Linked DNA regions of Homo sapiens. The protein of the gene in region 2 interacts with the protein of the main gene of each other region in a biochemical or structural test. Each region holds a gene or a part of one and is shown on either strand. Other genes may lie near its edges.

Region 1 (7,027 bases), on a different chromosome or scaffold from region 2:
GGTGGGCAGTGCTCTGAGAGGTGTGTGACTGTGGCAGGGCTTTCAGGACCGAAGCGACGGCCACTCACAGAGAGCTGGGGGGGCGAGCCACTGCCTGGGTGATGTCTGCTCAAGTTCCACCCACCCTCCGCAATCCAGAAGTCTTCCCAAGTATTCTCCACCTGAATTATGTGGAAGTTTCCTGACTTCTCTACTTTCCAGGACAGCTCTCCTTGGCTGGCGGGACTGGTTTTTCCACTCTGGCTGGTGTCAGACATACTCAGAAGAATGAACATCTAATGACATGTTTGTCAAAGTAATGCGCGTCCTGCAGCCCATGCCCAGCATCTCATTGACAGCTGCTCTGTCAGCTGGCAAACTCTACGCCCATCAAAGCTTTCCAACCATTCCTCTTGCACCGCAGGCGAGCTGACTGCTGCTGGTGCTAATGAGGTTGAGATTGTCACACACCTTCCTGGGACACAATTGTGTTGCACAAACACACAGCGGGCCGCACGGCAGGGCAGACACACACAGACCCCAGCCTCACACCAGCTGGGCAAAGCCCCCCACATCCAGGGGCTTTGAAAGGATTAACCATTGTAAACAAACATGAGCTGAGGTCACGCAAGTCACAACAGGTAGGGGGTGTGAAAAGGCGTGCCTAGTACACAAATAAAAAATTAAAAATACCATTACCCCAACACCCAAGAGTAGACACTCTTTTTTAAAGTGTGGGTCTTTTTCTAACGCACACGTGGAAGTATAATAAGAACGTCGTCGTTTTCAATCACGTTATCTTCCAAGGATTTTTAAAGCATGAGAAAGCTGTCCCTACATAATTTTGAGTGTCGTTAGTTTTCCTTCTGGCGGCCAACTTTTCTCAGCCGGAGCTGGAAATTAGGCCTGAACAGTGTTCCCTGAGTGAGGCTGGTGGATTTGGGGGGTGGGAGAGGGGAAACAGGGCTCCCTATCATCCCAGGAAGTCTAGGAGAAGGTGGGATGGGACAAATCCAGCTTAGGCTCTGGGGACATGTGCAGAGGGTGAGTCCTGCGGGGGGATCAGCTGCAGTCATAGTAAGTCAAGTATTCCGCATTTATTCCAGAAAGACTTCAAGGCAAAGAGGCCAGTGGAGGCAGATCTAACTTTGGATGTAAGCACAGGAGGTTTACCGTTTAGATTCTAAACACAAATCATCAGTACTTAAATAAACAATAATTTAAAAATAACTTGCAATATTATTCGTCTGGATGCAAAAGAAGGCAAAACAAAACAAAAAGCAATGTGTAGATATTGCAGGAAACATAAACAGCACCGATGAGCAAAGCACAGTGACTGCAATCCCAGCACACAGACGTGGCCACACGCCACCCTTTGAGCATTACCTGCTCCTTGGCTGTAGTCTTAGTGTACACATTTATTAATATATTCTGCGAAAATGAAATCCAACATGCAATGCGTTAAAATTGGGCTTTACAGAGGGAGCACTGTAGGCTTTAGTCCCTGGAATTAATAACTTCTGTTAGTGAGCTCCAGGGCTGGGGCTCACAGGCTCAGTTCTGCTGGTACCACCTGTGGGACCTTAAAACTCTGAGTATGGGTATAAATTAGTAGCTTCTCACCAGATTCCTTATGAGGATTTGGTTATTATTGTAATTCATTAACATGTAACATAATTTTCTTAATGCTAAACAGGGGACAGAACTTTCTGGGGTGTTTCAGGCTATCTTCCTCTCCTCTTCAACTCTGTGTTCTCTGTATTAGGTCACTGCACAAACACCTCCCTCATTCTCAGGGGTTCCCAGGGTGTCACTTCCCTGTCCTGTCCCTACTTCAAGCTCCTTGAACAGTACACAGTGAAGGCTGCTGAGGTCACGTCAGGGTCCTTGGCCCTTGTGTGTGTCCCTTGGGTTATACAGAACAGGGATAGCAGGGATTCCTGAGATCCCACTGGGGAAAGAGGCCATCAGAGCAGAGTCAGGAGAGGACACCTCCTAAGGAGCAGTGCCAAGCTCAGATGCAGGCCTTTAGGGAGAATCATGGGGGCTGGGGAGTGCCACACTTTGGCCTTTCGGAACACCTTAACATTTTCTGGTTATCTGTCCTGCCACGAGCTTGGAGGTGGGGATGGGTTTGTCCAAAGCCCATTGCGCCCCGGTCCCTGGGACCTGTAAGAATCAACGGGGGATCCCTGGGGACCTAGAAACGCAGGCTGTCTGTGCCCCAGGCCTCCTGAATGAGATTCTGCATTTCATCAGGATCCCCAGGGGACATGTGCACCTGATAATTTGAGAAGTGCTGCTCTATGGGACTCAAACCATTTAGATGGCCTGATTCTCAACTTTAGCTACACGTTAGAATCACTAGGGAACTTTGAAAAATTAGCCATGCTGGCCGGGCGCCGTGGCTCACACCTGTAATCCCACCCCTTTGGGAGGCTGAGGTGGGTGGATCACTTGAGGTCAGGAATTCTAGACCAGCCTGGCCAACATGGTGAAACTTCGTCTCTACTAAAAATACAAAAATTAGCTGGGCGTGGTGGCGCACGCCTGTAGTACCAGCTACTCAGGAGGCTGAGGCAGGAGAATCACTTGAACCTGGGAGGTGGAAGTTGCAGTGAGCTGAGGTCATGCTACTGCACTCCAGCCTGGGTGACAGAGCAAGACACTGTCTCAAAAAAAAAAAAAAAAAAAAAAGAAAAAAAGAAAAGAAAAAGAAAAGAAAGAAAGAAAATGAAAAAGAAAAAATTACCCATGCTTGTTCACTCCCCGCCCCCCTGCCCCAAGATGCTGCTCCAGTGGGTCCAGGTGGTGCCAGGGCCCTGCCGGTTTGAGCCACTACCCAGTGACTGTGTGGGCCGTGGTTGAGAAGCACTCCTTTAGATCACCAACTGTTGACCAGGAGGGGAGGGAGCAGCGCCTCCTGTGGGCTTTTTCAGATGACACAGTCACCTACCCTACAGGCCCCAAACAGACCCAAGGTCCCTGTCCCCACCCTCGTCCCTCAGGGCTGCGAAGAGGAGCAGCAGGAGGATAAGGGAGCCTCACGTGCACTGGAAAGGTGGAGGTGCTACCCCCAAATCGGGGACTGCGTTCTATCACCCACGCCACCTCGATCTCACACCAACAGAGCAAGGTCTTCCTACCACACAACTGAAAAAAGACACACGTCTAATACAAAGAAAAAGAAAATTTACAAAGATGCAAGTTGAACACTCTGGAAAGATTTAGTGCTGGGCAATGTCAAGAAGCAAATTCGTTTCCCATTTCATAATGTGATGGATGTGAAACGACACCTTCCAGAAACATCACCCTGGTCAGCTGCTGGACATTTCAGATGGAGTGAAAACACTCAAACAACTGAACAAAGTGTCTGCCAAGCCAGGTACAGTGGCCGATCGTTAGTTAACACGGTTAAGGGTACAAACGTGGGCCTCTCAGACCCAACCTGTTGACCCTTTCACCTCCCATAGTGTGGCCTAGCATTTAAGAATGAGTGTTGCAGCATTAAGACAGGGTTCAGATGGCAATTCTGTGATTTCTGAGTTGTTGACCTTGAACACGTTTCCAGGCTTCTCTTACCCTCATGTTCCTCAGCTATAAAACGGAAATAAAAGTACCATGTGCCAGGTTGTCGTGAGGATTTTATGACATTATTTCGTAAAGTTCTGAACTTTGTACATGTAGTGCCTGGTACATACTAAGGGATTGACAAATATTTGTAAACGATGATATCCTATTGGTCTTAAAGGTGGTGCAAGTGTAGCGGAAAATCTGGCAAAATACGTGCCAAGAGCTTAACGATGTTCAAGACCAATCATTCAACTTCTGTAAACCTGCATTACAGAAATAACCTTGAAACCAGGTATGAAGAGATGGGAAGGAAATGCTCTCAGTAGGAGTAAACAACTAGAAGCAACCCAAATGTCCCACAGGAGAATAAGGATTAGGTCAATAACTGCACATAGCACTCCCGCAGATAATGATGTTTGTTTTGGTTCGGAGTACTGCCCAATTTATGAATCATTTTTTGATCCAATTATTAAATCGTAAAAAAATAAAATAAAATAAATGAAATGATGTTTCACTTGATTGCGGGAGCCAGGTGGTGCCCTAAGCAAATGTCACTGATGGACGGTGAAGAGAAAAAAGCAACATGCAACATTACATACACCTTGTAAGTACAATAAGGTTAAAACAAAGTCCCCTAAACACAGAGAAGCAGAGACTAGGAGAGAACATGCCAAGATGCTCATTGTACTTGTGTTTGAGATAGCGGGATTCTGGATGATTCCTTTCCCTTCTTCCTTTTTTTTAAATTATTTTTTTCAATTTTTCCTTAATAAACATGTATTATTTTTATAATGAAAAAACAAAACTACATCCTTTTTCTTAAAAGTTCTTTAACCCAGCATGAAGTGATGTCCCAATTGTTAAGATCTGTGAGTCCACAATAAATTTTGTACACTGTTCCTCAATTTTTAGAATTTAAGAGTCCCAAGATATATTATATGATGAAAGAGCACCAAATGATGGACATTTGATTTCCACTGGTTGAGAACTCCTTGTTCTTACATAGCCTAGACACCCTGCAGGATGAGCATGGCAGGTCACACCCAGGCAGGCATAAGCACAGCCCTGTCCTTACCGTTAAGCGTCTCCATGGCACGTTCTGGACACACAGCTGACTCCTCCGGCCCCACACACCAGTACATGCTGGGGGGTCTTTGCGACATGCCAGCCATCAACCCTTGCAGCAGCCGATCTTCAAAGGCAGGTCCCGCTGTTGTCACTGCCACTGCCGCTGGCTGTGGGGTGCATTAAGGCGTGGACTCGTAGCCATGGCTGAGCAGAAAGCTTTCTTGCTCTGGTGGCGAAAAACAATCAAAACAGAAAGCCTTTATAATTCCTGTCCTCCTCCCCTGCAAATATTTGCATGGGTTCATTTAGTTTTCCCTCTGCAACATTCCTTTTTGTAGTCCATCTATCCAGCCAAACCCATCAGGTGTGGTCAGTGGGAAGGCACAGCTCCCCCCATCCCATCTTGATGCGGGGCTCAGGTATTGTCTACCTGAGAAGAGTCTCAAACAAACCCCAGACAATTGGAAAACACATACTGGTAACAGCTTCAATCATTGTTCAGTCAACGCACACCTACTGTCACATGCAAGGTAGCCAGGCTCTGTGTGAGGCTCAGTGGCACCAAGATGGCTCAAGGAGGCTCTTGCCCTCAGGGGCACACTCCAGTGGGGGTAGGGCAGACATAGTTAAGGTTAGTCACGATACAAGGCTCTCCTTTTGCCCGGGGCCAGTTCTTCTGGAAGCCAGAGGTGAGCACGTCATCCCAAGGGGGTGGTCAGGCAACAGTTCCAAAGACATGGAATTATTACTGGTTATGAAGTCAAGTTAGCATGAGCTTTAGCAGAAAGCTAAATGACGGAGGTTAGCAGACATGAGCCTCAAAAATTCTGCCCCTTTCCCAGGGGACATTTGGCAATGTCTGGAGACATTTTTGGTTGCCACAACTTGGCTGGGGGAGAGTGCTACAGGCCTCTAATGGGTAGAGGTCAATGATGCTGCTAAACATCCTACAATGTACAGGACTGCTATTTGCAACAAAGAATTATCTGGCCCCAAAAGTTCCAGGGTGGAGTTAGACTAATCTCTGAAACTAATGACTATGATAAACTGAGACCAAGTGCTGCTCTTCTATGCTGGGCCCCCACTGAGCTTAGAGTCCCCCCATGGGCATAAGTGCCCATCCTGGTATGGTGATTGAAGGACCAGAGGGAGGGTAAGACCCATGCCTAGCTCAGGCCTGACATGAGGTACTACCATAAGTAATGCATGTGCGCCTATCCTTGTTCTTATAGCATATCCTACATGTGATGAAGTACGAGGTAATTAGCACCTCTTGTCTGTGTTCTCTCAGATAGACAACTCTGAAATGGGGAGTGATAGTGCAGCCAAAAATATATTTTTTAAATCAAGGTTATATAAAAATAATGCCTAAGAGAATCTGTACAGGCAAAAGCATAGCGTGGACGTTAAAGGTGTGGACTGCCTGTGTCACATGTTCGCAGTGTGACTCCCAGCTGAAAGGTATGTGTGTCTCAGTTTTCACCTGTTAAAAATAGACATCCACCCTTATGCCCGGGCCTGCTAGTGGGGTTACTGTGTGAATTCAACCAAAGTGAAGTTTCTGCAGCCTCTCTCTACGACAGGGCTGGGGTGGTCATTACCTGTAGTACCAGCGCACAGACTTGGAGGCCAGCGGGTCTCCCACTTCCCTGCTAATTAATAAGATCAGAATATCAATGCTGGAGGGCAGATGCCAGCCTCACCAGCGGGTAGGTTCTAGAAGATGCCGTGAGCAGTAGGGGCACGAAGTAAGGTACAGGACAAGGCTGTGGGAATTTCTCACCTAAAAGCCTAGAACTCAGGCACCTGGCCCAGGTGGACTGGACTCGTCAAGGCAGGGAAAGGTGGAGCTAGAAAAGCCAGGCTCCAGCAGCCTTGTGCAAGCTGCACATGTTTCAGAGGCAAAAGGGATGGTCGACACAAACCACGTGTGGGAAACACCTGTGTTTGAAGTTGGGAAGCCTGAAAAGTCGAAGGAGGAAAGGAAAAACGATCAATCTGGGCAAAATTTAGGGGATGATGAAAGCCTTATAAATAGCAAAACCTGATTTGGAAAATCAACTTGTGACAGAGAGAGGAAGAGCCAGCAAGACAGAATCTGTTTTAAAATAAACGTTCCGATCACACATTCACATCCAGAAACTGAGAAGCACAGTTGCCATCTGCTTTCAGACACCTCTCCAAAACAGCTACCGCACATAACCAACAGCATTTCAAAAATCCAAACGCTAGACATTCTTCCTGAAAACAGAAGTGTCTTACCATACAATGTTTTTAAGTTCTAAAAAAAAAAAAATCTTAAAATTATTTCAGGCTAACCCTCACCCAGCACATTTTGTTCCCCTTTTCATTTTCAGTTTCCTTTTGAAAATCACTTTACCAGTGGAAGACTCTGCCCCTGGAGCAG
Region 2 (7,027 bases):
ACACCGTGTACACACACACACACTGCACACATACTTTTCTTGCTTTTGCTGTGAATCACACCGTTTCACCTGTGCTATCTTTGAAGCAGAGGTTTTCTTTATTCCTCCTTTGGAAATGATGTGGCATATTCTTTTCCCTCCTCCATTTTTGTCCTCAGTCAAAGCTAAAAGGAGCAGTTTTTATGATGAGATTTGGGGAGGCTCCAGCAGTGTTGAAATCCTATGACATAACTTGAAACATCGAGTGGGTACATAAAAAATGTAGAGTTTAGAGATTTTTGTATTAAAGGCCTCCCTGCCACCCCCAGTCTTAGAAAATGTGGTTCATTCCTGTGGTTCACAGAATCTGAAGCCTGAGATTGATGAGCCCCTTCTTGTGATTGTTTTAATCATTCTCTAAAGTTTGTGCATTTTACTGTACCCTTAGTCACAGAGAGTACTGAGTGAATTTAAAGTTGCTTGGAATATATTAAGCTTTCTTGGAAAATTCTCTTTCCCTTGGATCAAATGGGTGAACAGAATATTAAGTTGAGTGTCCTCTTCTAACTTATACTCTGAAAATTTAGCCAGTAGGTTTGCATATGGAAAGTTATTGGTCCAATCACATACCATGACTATAATTTACATAATTTACATCATCATTATTAATAAATTCCTGCATTATTCATCAGAATTTGCATCTGCTCAGTTTCCTCACCCTTCTACAGAGGTTGAAGACATTTAGCAGCCCTGGACTGCCATTTAGTCACAGGGGAAGGGAATTCAGGCTTCGAAGTCCTTTTTGGATCAGCTGCGTTGAATGCGCTGCAGTTGTGTTCACTCTTCGTAAGTGGCTGCTTGGCGGAAGACTGAAAGACACTTCTCCATTTGAAAATGAATCCTGACAAGTGTAAACTGGTGGGAATTTTCTGTAGCCTTCCTGGGATTCTTTTGATTTTGCTGGTCTCCTTTCTTCCCAAGAGCGACAGTGAGGGTGGGAGACTGCTCACCTCCAGCCCAGCAGAAATACGGAGCTGTGAGCAGACTCCTCCAACAGTTTAGCTTTCTAAAGCCCAGTTGGACTAAGAGAAGGGAACGAGGTTGGTTATGCCAACCCGAGCATTTTTAACTTGCTTTTGTAGTTGCCCTTGAAACTAAGGTCACGTTGCTTCTGCTCATTGAGGGCGGTGGAGGCGATAGTGGATAGTAGAAGAGAGCACACATTGCCTCACTGAAGTGGCTGCACGTATCTGAGTCCTGTAGCTACTGTTTTATCTCTGTTTCTTAAAAGTATGCTTTTAAAAAGATTAGCCTCACACATTTCTGTGGACCGGTCTGGTGGTATCACCTGGGACTCTGAGGTGAGGATGGAAGGATTTAGCAGATAATGAAAAAGAACTCTGTTTGCGCACATTTGAGAGGCTGAAAAATGGTTTTATCCCACTTGGGCTGGAGTGATTTGGCATTGGGGAAGATTCCCTGACTCGCCAATCTCTTTCCTTTAGTGACTGCAGCAGCAGCGGCAGCGCCTCGGTTCCTGAGCCCACCGCAGGCTGAAGGCATTGCGCGTAGTCCATGCCCGTAGAGGAAGTGTGCAGATGGGATTAACGTCCACATGGAGATATGGAAGAGGACCGGGGATTGGTACCGTAACCATGGTCAGCTGGGGTCGTTTCATCTGCCTGGTCGTGGTCACCATGGCAACCTTGTCCCTGGCCCGGCCCTCCTTCAGTTTAGTTGAGGATACCACATTAGAGCCAGAAGGTAAGTCATTTAATTTCACTTTTCAGGTTTGTTTTGGGATTTGTCTGGGGGCAGATTGTTAAGGCCTGTTTTAGAATCAGCTACCCTTGCATTGTAAATGGGGCTTCTAAGAGCACCAGATCGTGGTCTCTTGGCTCCCGGCAAGGCAGAGCTGATGAGAGAAGGTCCTTTGCCGCAGCACTGCAGGCAGGATGGTATAGTTTGGTGGTTTCTTGCTGTGTGTGTTTCTCTGTGCTGGGTGAGGGAGACAGCTGGGAGTTGGCCTTTATCCAGTGCCCGAGAGAGCTGTGGAAGGGATGAACCTTGGGAGGATGAATGTCATCTCTAGTCTCCCCCAGCATCATTCCTACTGCTTACAATGTAAAGAATTGCTATTTTCGGACAAGATGAACCACTAAAAGAAATTGCCAACATCTGAAATGCTGACATCTTATTTTCATTGTTTAAGGAGAAAAGAAGTTTCTGAAGTTTAGCACAGAGAGAGAGGCTTGACATCTCAGAATTTTTTTTTAGCCATTGTAATTCATAATACTTAAGCAATGCATCATCACAGAGTGGCAGATTCTAGTTTAGGTAAACTTGAAAGTGAATGTGCCAGGGGATCTCCTCCAGCTCCGAGAACCTCCAAGTATCACAGGGCATGCGCCGGTGTCACAGCTTTGGAAATTTAATTTTCAAGGTGTAAGTCCAATTACGAGGACTACATGAGGCTGAATTATTCAGCTTAGCAGATTTGGAACCTCTCTCCCAGCCCTTTGGAGACAACGTGAGCCAAGCCTCTACTTGGTGCTGCACTGAAATCTGTCATCAGTAGGGAATATTGGTAGCTGAGTTATTTTTCGAGTGGTAATCCGAGAATAAAACGGCAGATCCCAGCACTCATCGCCACTTAATGAACCTGTTTGTGGAGAGTCCACCTGGTGCCTGCCTGGCTTTAGGAACCCGCAGCAGTCCGAGTGGTGTCTGGGGTAAGCTGAGCTGCTCTGGGAACACATCTCGTGCGTGGGGTGAATGAACAGCACACTTACCCAGTGGGGTAGGCTGGGAGAGGACAGAGAGCCCAGCCTCCTTAGCTGGATCAGGACAGTTTAGGAAGGAGGGTTGCGTCCATCTGAGATGAGAGTTCTGAGAGACATGGGCTCCCCAGGAAGACCCCAGGCACTTGTCATTGAAGGATGAGGACCGAAGCACTTATCACCTGAAGCAATCGTGTGAGACTGGGGAACTTTTCGTTACACAGAGGGATGGCAGCTCTATAATTAACAGGTGTGGTGACATCTCCCTGCGTCTCTGGGAAGGGAATCTGGTAGGAGTTTGTGTCTGAGGCTTGTATAGCTACAGCTACAGGCCGATTATGGAACTGCCTCTTGGTGATTTGTGCTGGGACACCAGGATGAGTGTAATTTGCAGTGGTGATGCATTTTTACAGGGCTTTCATGTAAGAGGGAAAAAGTTCCTGGTTTCTGAAAGTCATGCCTGTACGTCTTTAATTTTGCTAATAATTAAAATGGATGTTTCCGTGATTGCTGGTTTTCCCTTGAGTGCGTGGCTCGGCAAAAACTGAGGAAGCTGAGCTGGGATTTCCTACGGTGTGGGCTTTAGGAGCAACCCAGGTTAGGGAAAAACTGTCATTTTTCATTTTGGCTTTTCAGGGCAGCGTTATTGTGAGTTTATTTCAACATAAAGTGTAAAATGGTCCCAGAGGATTTGTTTTACTGTATTTAATTCTTGAAGGAAGTTTAAAATTGTGTATACATGCAGGGAGGGACAGGTGAGGCAGAGGGAAGAAATCGTGGAAAGGGACGAAGTTCCCCGAGTGAGTCTTTGTGTAAGAATTTACATCCAACAATGTGGGTATTGTTGGAAGCAGGCCTGCTCAACCTGGGATCTGTGGATGCACTTATGGATCAGGAAGGAGGTCGATGAAGTTCTGGAAATTTTAGGTAATATTTTGTTAATGTCCTTTTGTGCATTTTTATGGGTTTATAGTTTCCATGAGCTATGAGTTCATTTGCATCCAGAATTATGAGATGGAAAAGAAAAGATGTCTTAGAGGAAGGTGCAAAACCTGGCAAAGAAGAGGCTTTGGAAAAGTATACAAGTCCCAGGCCTCAGTTTCCCTTTCTGTCGTCTGAGGGCTTAAGAAGATGATCTTTAGGGTCTCTTCATTAATAGTCATTGAATATTAATGTCCTCAGAAGTCTTCTGACTCTTCCACCAAAAGGTTGTTAGGAGATTTCCATTTGACCTGGACATAAAGAGCAATTAGCACAGGGGCTGGCATCCAGTAAGCACCGGGTGCATGGCCTTGTCGCCGTTGTCGCCAGGGAGCTGGGAACATGGGTCTTCCCAGTCCCGTGGGCTGGCTGTGCCAGGTGCCACAATGTCAAAAAACATCTAGGCTTTTGGAGACAGTTGAGAAGAAAGTTGTTTTTGGATGGAGGAGGCCCTTGGTGTTTCCAGGAAGCTGTGTTTGCTTTCTGTAGGGTCCCCACTTCCCCTCATCTGTTAGTCTAATACTGGCCACTGATTTGAGCCCTAAGACCAGTTCTTCTGTTGCAGGAGTTCGCTTTGGTGTCAGAGGTGATTAGGAAGGTCATTGAATTATAGATGAGAAAGGAGTTTTTAACAGCTGAAAATGGGCTCAGGTTTAGGCTCTGTGCTGGTGAATTGGAAGAGAGAGAGAGAGAGAGAGAGTGTGCGTGTGTGTGTGTGTGTGCGCGAGTGCGCGTGCGTGCGTGCGTGCCTGTGCCCCTGTCCATCAGTTCTCCATGATTAGAACTACTATAGCTTTGGTTAGCAGTAAGTTCCACCTTGACCTTCTGTGCACCAAGGTCTTATCTTGTAAGACTTTTTGGTTTGCTAATTTATTTGGAAGCTCAGTTTAGATAATGTCTATTGGATAGGAGAAAAATGTGACTGAGAAGTTCCAGGAAGAAGCCTGGGCCCTAACACTAGAGGGTCCTTTTCTTTTGGCCCCTCAGGGAAAGGTTATGTTTAGTCATCTTGGCTTTGTGCAATATCGTATCATATCATATGTCATATCATATATCATATATATCATTTGTCTTCTGGACACGTTCTGAAATAGTAGCAGTGGGGTTGGGCCCACTCAATTGACTTAAGAAAATAATCTCTAGAAGATTTTAGTTTTTAATATTTCAGATTAAATATGAGTTTTCCAGTTGGTCATTCATTGTTAATTTCCTTTTGGTCATTCATTGTTATAGGGCACCAGCAGAGGAGTGAAAACATGGTTATTGACTCGAAGGGGGGCAGTCCTCAATGCCAAGTACTATTCTGTTGATTAACATTATAAATATTTGAAGTCTAGTCAAGCTTGATTACCCTGAGAGGGGGCAACTCTTACTTTCAAGTTCTTCCTGACATTGTCACCTACTCTGGTTAATTAAGTCATTGTTGACATTAATGGCATCTTTGTTTACACCAACCCAGTAGGAGCTAAAATGAAAGGGCTTTTCAACCCTACACCCTTAATTACTTTCCCACCCTCCACAGAGTGTGACTCTGAAAAGTAACAACCTGAAAAAAAATGTAGTTTGTGTAGCAATTTTTTGTCAATCTTCTGAGAGGTGATGCTCTCCTGGACCAACGTGAGTTGGTCCAGAGTTCAGTAGCAGAAACGTCGAGGACAGGATCTACACAGAGACCTCCCTAAGTCAGATTTTTCCAGTATGGTTTAAGTCCTTTGTTAGAAGTATTGTAAATGCCATAATATTAACCATACGCATTTAATTGCAAGTTAAAAGAAAGGAAGAAAGAATATATCCGCATACCAAGAGTGAATGATTTAAAATAATCTTCTGTTTCGTATTATCTGCATCTTTGTTTTTCAATATGAGTGTTAATATTTAAGAGTTGACTGTAACTTGATAGTTAGCTTTGGAACAAGGACTTATTCTTGGTCAATTAAACCAAATACAGGCTTACGCAGTTAAATACACAATGAAGTACACATTCTTTATTAGTATATAAAGTGTTTCACAATTCATAGACCAAGAGCCATGTTTAATATTACTTATAGAGCAGAAATCTGGCAAGCCCAGAGAACTGGTACTTGTATCATTTTATACTGGCTCTCTCTGATTCAAATTTGGGGTATATGTGTGTGTTTCTGTTTTGTCTGTTTATTTCAACCAGTTAAAAGACAGAGCACTTACTATGCCAATGGCCCCGCATCAAGCCATAAGTAAAGACTTTATTCCTTTCAAGTCTTTCTGACCCAGTTGAGGGTGAGAATTCACAAAACCACAGCAATCCAATATGAGATGTTTTTAATATCAGACTTAACAAATAATTACATGGCTATGAAATAACTGGGGTCGTGTTTAAACTGGAAGTGTTTTGTTTAATGTTCGTAGTTTCAATAAAATGTATCCACTAGTCTTCCAGTTTGCAGACTGTTGTTTAGGTGTTTGTTTAGCCAGGGTAATTGTTAAAAACTCCCTCTAATCTAGCTTACCCTTACATTTCCATGGAAGCGAATTTTAGTCATTAAAGGAAAACATGGGAAATTGATTTTTGGGTGCCTGGCTGTTAAGCTAGGTAGGAAATATAGCTGGTGTGCTACTCTCCACTGTACTGGTCCGATTCTCGCCAGGGGGACATCTCTGTAGGCAGTTCAGAAATTATTTTTTGGAAGTTTTTTAGGCTATTCCACAGATAATTCTGATCCAGTAGGTTTTATGCAACTGTGCAAAATGCTTATGGTCTCTATTTTTTTTTCCTTGAGAGATGATTTTAGCCTTTGGTTTTTTGTTTGTTTTTGTTTTTTGAGACAGAGTCTTGATCTGCCACCCAGGCTGGAGTACAATGGTGCAATTGTACCCTCACTGCATTGTCAAACGTGGCTCACTGTACCCTCGGACTCCTGGGCTGAAGGGGTCCTCCAACCTCCTGAGTAGCTGGGACTACAGGCCTGGATAATTTTTAAAAATATTTCGTAGATATGGGGTTTCGCCATGTTGCTCAGGCTGGTCTCCAACTCCTGGCAGCCTTGGCCTCCCAAAGTGCTGGGATTACAAGTGTGAGCCACCACACCTGTCCTAGCCTTAAGTTTTGCATTTTTTTCCATCTTTTTGCTGTATCCCATATGATTTAGAGATTTTTGCTGTATCCCATGAGATTTAGAGATGGCTCTACTTTTTTTAGCTTTCCTAGCATTGAAATGCTTGGTGTTGCTAATCATACCCCATCTTTACCACACCATCTTCCTCCCTGACTTGCCTTCTTAGTGTAGTTTGGTCAAGAACTTGAGGCCAAG

The links.
Region 1: the proteins of FGFR2 (region 2) and LRRK1 form a complex in vitro, tested with the Homo sapiens proteins (2 studies listed by BioGRID and IntAct, with this or other methods).

Annotation. Positions count from the first base shown.
Region 1 is NC_000015.10:100,922,330-100,929,356, reverse strand, and holds part of LRRK1 (leucine-rich repeat serine/threonine-protein kinase 1), read right to left. Parts: intron 4,847-7,027; 5' UTR 4,725-4,846; coding exon 4,628-4,724; intron 1-4,627.
Region 2 is NC_000010.11:121,588,425-121,595,451, reverse strand, and holds part of FGFR2 (fibroblast growth factor receptor 2 isoform 1 precursor), read left to right. Parts: intron 1-1,193; exon of another isoform or gene 1,194-1,484; 5' UTR 1,485-1,577; coding exon of another isoform or gene 1,578-1,634; coding exon 1,635-1,743; intron 1,744-7,027. UniProt on the Homo sapiens protein: Tyrosine-protein kinase that acts as a cell-surface receptor for fibroblast growth factors and plays an essential role in the regulation of cell proliferation, differentiation, migration and apoptosis, and in the regulation of embryonic development.